Regions from separate parts of the Homo sapiens genome. Here region 1 is linked to region 2. The links come from fine-mapping of genetic effects on gene expression. A gene starts in region 2. The other region holds a variant in brackets. All regions are shown on one strand. Distances are between the middles of the regions.

Region 1 (2,906 bases), 46 kb after region 2:
AATTGAATGAGAGGAATATTTGGGGAGCTTCTTTAAGAAGGCAGCTAGTATTCCTGGTCTTTTGGCTAAGATCAAGTGAAGAAGGCAGCTAGTTTGTGCCTGGTTTTCAACAGCAGAGTTTGGGACTTGAGAAATCTTCCCTAAACTTTGGTGCAAGAAATGGGTCCAAGAGGAATAGGGTTTTGAGGTCCTCTGCTGGACCCTGAGAGGGATCTTGGCATCATGAGGCATGTAGAAACTGAAAGATGGGTCAGACTCCCCTGAGGCCTTAGTTGAGGGATGTTGGACATCTCTCCATGGCTTGCCTTTTTCCCTTGCCCTTTTACTTCTGTGCCTTCCAGTTCTAGTCCTCCTTTCTCCTGCCCAGACAGCCTCTCCATTCTGATCACAACAACAGTATTTGAGATAGTACAGTTAGCTTTATTTCCCTTTTTTTTTTTTTTTTAAGACAGAATCTCACTGTCGCCCAGGCTGGAGTGCAGTGGCGCGATCTCGGCCCACTGCAACCTCTGCCTACCAGGTTCAAGTGATTCTCCTGCCTCAACCTCCTGAGTAGCTGGGATTACAGGCGTGCACCACCATGCCTGGCTAATTTTTGTTGTCCAAGCTGGTCTGAAACTCTTGGCCTCAAGTGATCGCCCACCTCAGCCTCCCAAAGTGCTGGGATTACGGGTGTGAGCCACCGCACCCTACCATATGTTCCTTACTTTCTCCAGTCTATTAAAACTTCTATTTGAGCCTCTTGTCTGGGCACAAATAGCCATTTGATACTGCCACTCCACTCTAAAAAACAATAATTTTCCCATATTTCCCTAATACCATTGGGATTAAATCTAGATTCCCTAAATAGTTTATGGCTCCTGCTTCTCTTTCCTTTCATGTCCTCTCACCCACTTTTTAAGGAGACAAAGTTTTGCTCCAGCCCAGGCTGGAGTGCAGTGGCGTGATCATGGCTCACTGCAACCTCAGCCTCCTGGGCTCAAGTGATCCTCCTGCTCAGCCTCCTGAGTAGTCGAGACTACAGGTGCAGGTATGGCTTTTTTTTTTTTGAGACAAGATCTTGCTATATTGCCCAGGCTAACCTCAAAGTTTGGCCTCAAGCAAGCCTCCAGCCTTGGCTTCCTAAAGTGCTGGAATTAAGGCGTGAGCCACTGCTTTCAGCCCACAAGCAACTTTTATTTCCTTCAATTAACTAAACTTAAGTTACTTGACACATACTCTGTCTGAAATACTTCCATCACTTTTGCCTTTGCCTACCTAACTTCTTATCTTTCAAATGCCATCGTAGTCATCGCTTTTGTGAAGCCTTCCTTGACTCCTTACATCTAAGCTGAGTTCCTTTCCTATGAGCTCCCAAGCTTCCTCCACGTCCCTGCTTAGATCCCTTATTATCATCTTCTACTGGGATTTCCTGGTTATTGCATCTCCTACTGGACAGAAAGCTCCAGGAAGTCAGGTCACAGCTGCCTTATCTTCACCATGTGCTTAACATCTAGTGCTTAACACAATGCCTGGCAAGTAATAGATGCTTTATAAATATTTGGAATATTAATGAATGAATCTGGAAAGAATATTATAGCTTACCAAAAAATGATCTTTATGATGTATATGGTCTCCCCTGTAACTGTTGGGCACCCAACAACAGTAGGGATTTCATACCA[C/G]TGCCAATAAAATGTCCCTTGGGTCATATGGTGGCATTGATGTTGCGATTTTGAGCTTTTTTTTTTTTTTTTTTTTTTTTTTTTTGAGACGGAGTCTTGCCCTGTCGCCAGGCTGGAGTGCAGCAGCACGATCTTGGCTCACTGCAACCTCTGCCTCCTGGGTTCAAGTGATTCTCCTGCCTCAGCCTCCCAAGTAGCTGGGATTACAGGCACGTGCCATCATGCCTGGCTAATTTTTGAATTTTTAGTAGAGACGGGGTTTTGCCATGTTGGTCAGGCTGGTCTCAAACTCCTGACATCAGGTGATCCACCAGCCTCGGCCTCTCAAAGTGCTGGAACTGCAGGCGTGAGCCATCGCGCCCGGCCTAATTTTTGAGCTATTTTGTTTCACTTCCCATCAACTGCCAGAGCAGCACTTTGGCTGACTGATTTTCCTTTTAGCCTTAAGTGTGCCCATGAACTGACCAGAGCATTACAGAACCAGGCTGAAAAGCCACGGGACTCAAGAAAATCCTTATTCTGAGATGAGCCTCTTTCAGAGCCCGATCCTGGATCTAGGCAAAATGGACTTACTGTCAGGGGTGCCAGCAGACACAAGCGGTTTTGGATGCTCTCGCCGAGTAGCTAACAAAACCCACCCCTCTTACTAAGGCAAAACTTCACCTGAACGCTTATTCCCCGGTAAAAGCTCAAGCAGTAGTCTTGCCATAGACAGGGCAACTGCTGCCCCCTAGTGGTATAAAGGGACAGGCCCGGGTGGGTGGGGGTGTGTGTGTGTGACGGGGACAGTTTATGGGTACATGCACAGGGAAAGAAAGTCAGAGGACAGGTTGCCTCAAGTTGCTTTTTCCCTTTTTATTAAAAATAGACTCAAGCACTTTATGTATCATACAAAAGTTTCATTCGCTGGTGGCAGCCACGGGAAAGACTGGCCCCGTAGCACTGATTTTCCACCTCCCCTCCAGGGGACTGGGTCCCAGGAGCAGTGACTGGGCCTCAGAGAAAGCCCATAAAGACTGCTTACTCTGGAAGCAGCCGACTAGGGGCTGTTCCGCGAGCAGCTGTCCCCACCCCACCCAATGGCAAAAGTTAGATACTCGAAAGTGCCTCTTCAGTGCCAAGATAAACTAACAAGTGGAGTGAAATGGAAAACCCTTTGATTATTTTACTATTTCCCAGGGCCTGGGATTTGAGTTTTCCCTGCACTCAAGTCCTTTTCCCTACAAATAGGGGTAGGAAACTTCA
Region 2 (2,906 bases):
AATTATATTTGAATTTCAGATACACAACAATGACAACAAAATTTATTTTACCATAAGTATATTCCAATGTAAGCATTTTTACCATAAGTATATCCCAATGTAAGTTTTTTTTTTTTTTTTTAGAGACAGCAAGTGTCTTACTCTGTTGCCCAGGCTGGAGTGCAGTGGCATGATCAATGCTAACTGCAGCCTTGAACTCCTGGGCTCAAGGGATCCTCCTGCCTCAGTCTCCTAAAAGGCTGGGATTACAGGTATGAACCCCCAGGCCTGCCTACTTCGTGTGTTTTATCTGGCAATGCTGAGAGGACAGCTAGATGTCGAGGACAGCCAGATTTCGAGGACAGCCAGACGTCAAGGGGGAAAGCAACTTGCTGGCTCACACAGCCAGCCAGGTCTATTGTGGAGCCCTAGTCGCAAACACATACACCCCAGCTTTCAAGTTTTTAAATATTTATTTAGTTAGTTATTTGTTTTTTGAGACAGTCTTGCTCTGTCACCCAGGCTGGAGTGCAGTGGTGCAATTTCAGCTCACTGCAACCTCTGCCTCCCAGATTCAAGTGATTGTGCCTCAGCCTCCCTAGTAGCTGGGACTACATGTGCGCGCCTGCACTGCCCAGCTAATTTTTGTACTTTTAGCGGAAACGGGGTTTCCCCATATTGGCCAGAGTGGTCTCAAACTCCTGACCTCAAGTGATCCACCCACCTCGGCCTCCCAAAGTGCTGGGATTACAGGCGTGAGCCACCGTGCCCGGCTAGCTTTTTTTTTTTTTTTTTTTTTAATTAGGTTGAATGCTTGTTGAGCTGGGTGCCTCACATCCGTTGTCTGTTATACAAAGAACTACTGATTATGGGTCTCTACGAGCAAAAATGGCAGAACACCTACAGGGCACAGGGGAGATGGGAGCAGGGATTAGGCTTCAGAATACTTCTCCAAATGAGGGTGATCAGGGCCCGACATTTCACTGCTCTAAGGCTCAGTATCTTAACTATCAAATGGGTACAATGGGGCACAAAGGGTTACTTTGAGGAATAACGGAGGTGAGCAATTTCCAAAAAGTTCATTCCTTTAAAAACTGCGGAGCACATTTTGTGTACATGCTGTTTTTATTGTTACTCATGAAGACGCGGGGGAAGCTTTGGTTGTGTAAAGCTGAGAACTGCACCCAAGCTTCCCCGTTCACCCCACCTACCAGGGGATTTGGGCTAAATTCCTGGCCTGGCCCACAAAGAAGACCAAGCGGTCAGTCCCATTCCGTCCCATCCTGATTTACAGGAACTCACACCAGCGATCAATCTTCCTTAATTTGTAACTGGGCAGTGTCCCGGGCCAGCCAATAGCTAAGACTGCCCCCCCCGCACCCCACCCTCCCTGACCCTGGGGGACTCTCTACTCAGTCTGCACTGGAGCTGCCTGGTGACCAGAAGTTTGGAGTAGGTTTGGTGCTGGGCAGGGGTGGGGAGTAGGGTGGAAAGCATGGAGTGAAGAGGTCTAGGGAGGGGGTCTCCTCACCCCCGCCTTCCTGCCCGCCTTGATCTCGGGGGTCTCTATAGGCTTGCTTCCACCTGGGACTTCTGCCTCCTCCTACCCCAGCCCCTCCCGCCTCAGGCCTGTTGTGCTCAGCCCCCCAGGACCTCCCCTCCCCCACGCCTCTGGCCTCATTGTTTGGTTAAAGCAGGACCCCCTCCCCCTCCCACCACCTCCCCTCCGACTGAACAGATGGACAGAGACCCGGGCCCACGGGGAGAGGAAGGGCCAGCCGGTGCCGGGAAAGGGAAGCGGTTTGGGGAAAACAAAACAGAGGGAGGAGCCAGGGAGAAGGTGGCCCCAGGAGGGAGGAGGAGGGAATTCGCTAAGAGGGACTGGGGCCTGAGACGGAATGGGGGCGGGCCCCGGGCGGGGTGGGGGCCCCTGGGCTCCCAGGGTGGGAGCTGGCTCCGAGGCTGGCTGGCTCCGCAGGTCCGCTGACGTCGCCGCCCAGATGGCCTCCAGGCTGACCCTGCTGACCCTCCTGCTGCTGCTGCTGGCTGGGGTATGTGGTCCCTTGTGGGATGGGGGACGGGGGTGGAGACGGGAGGCGGGATGGTGCGGGGTGCGGGCGGTGGCTGAGGATTAACCCTTCAGGCTCCGGGGAATGAGGAGAGCTCCTCTTGGGATCATTGAGTGTGATCCTTGCACACGCACTCGTAGATGGTGGAAAGAGCTCAGGACTCAGACAGATGCAAGTTCTAATCTTGGCGGGCCATGTAGGAGCTGCGCAGCGTGGTCCTGAGGACGTCACTTTTCTCAGCCTACTCCTCCTGATTTATAAAATGTTGAATAAACAGATCCCACCCTGTCCACCAAGCAGGCTTGGCAGGAGGATCACATAGGGCAAGGAGATGGGAAGCATTTTGTGATATCAAAGCAAGAGTTTGTTGTAGAAAAGAGCTGTGGGGAGGAGAGGTTTGGCTGCTGTGACACAGACGGTGGTCCCAGGCTAGGGCCTGTGAAGACAGGGAAGAATGGTAGCAAACATACGTGGGTCTGGGTGGGGGTCAATAGCAGTGAGAGGTCCCAGTGGTCTGGGAGGTCATGGACTAGAAATAAGGCTAAGAAGTGCAGGATCCCAGGAGAAAGGTAGGTAGGGGTGTGTGTATGTGCGTGTGTGTGTGTGTGCACGCGCAAGTTGGTATCACATACTCAGCAGATGATGTAGTTATGAGCAGGGAGTTTGGAATCAGAGACCTTGTTTTGACCCCTAGCTGTTTCTCCCATTTCTGTGAGACCCTGGACTAGTTAATATGTGTCGGTATGAGTTTCTCTACCTGTGAAATGGAGCTAATGCGTGGTTTCTCAGTGGAGGATCTGTTGACATTGGGGCTGGATAATTCATTGCTGAGGGGCTACCCTGCGCATTTTAGGATGT

The links.
Region 1: its variant is fine-mapped to the expression of SERPING1 in whole blood (TOPMed, PIP above 0.99).

The regions. Positions count from the first base shown.
Region 1 is chr11:57,642,591-57,645,496 of GRCh38, forward strand. YPEL4 (yippee like 4) reads right to left here. Exons shown (of 5, transcript NM_145008.3): 5 at 2,497-2,906. The region is part of intron 1 of MIR130AHG (MIR130A host gene); the gene reads left to right. Among named protein-coding and RNA genes, the nearest start is that of MIR130A, 2.8 kb to the left of the region's middle. RefSeq lists an enhancer at 680-1,179. The variant C/G (reference allele first, on the strand shown) is at 1,662.
Region 2 is chr11:57,596,292-57,599,197 of GRCh38, forward strand. SERPING1 (serpin family G member 1) reads left to right here and starts at 1,394. Exons shown (of 8, transcript NM_000062.3): 1 at 1,394-1,431; 2 at 1,958-2,030. The coding sequence starts at 1,980.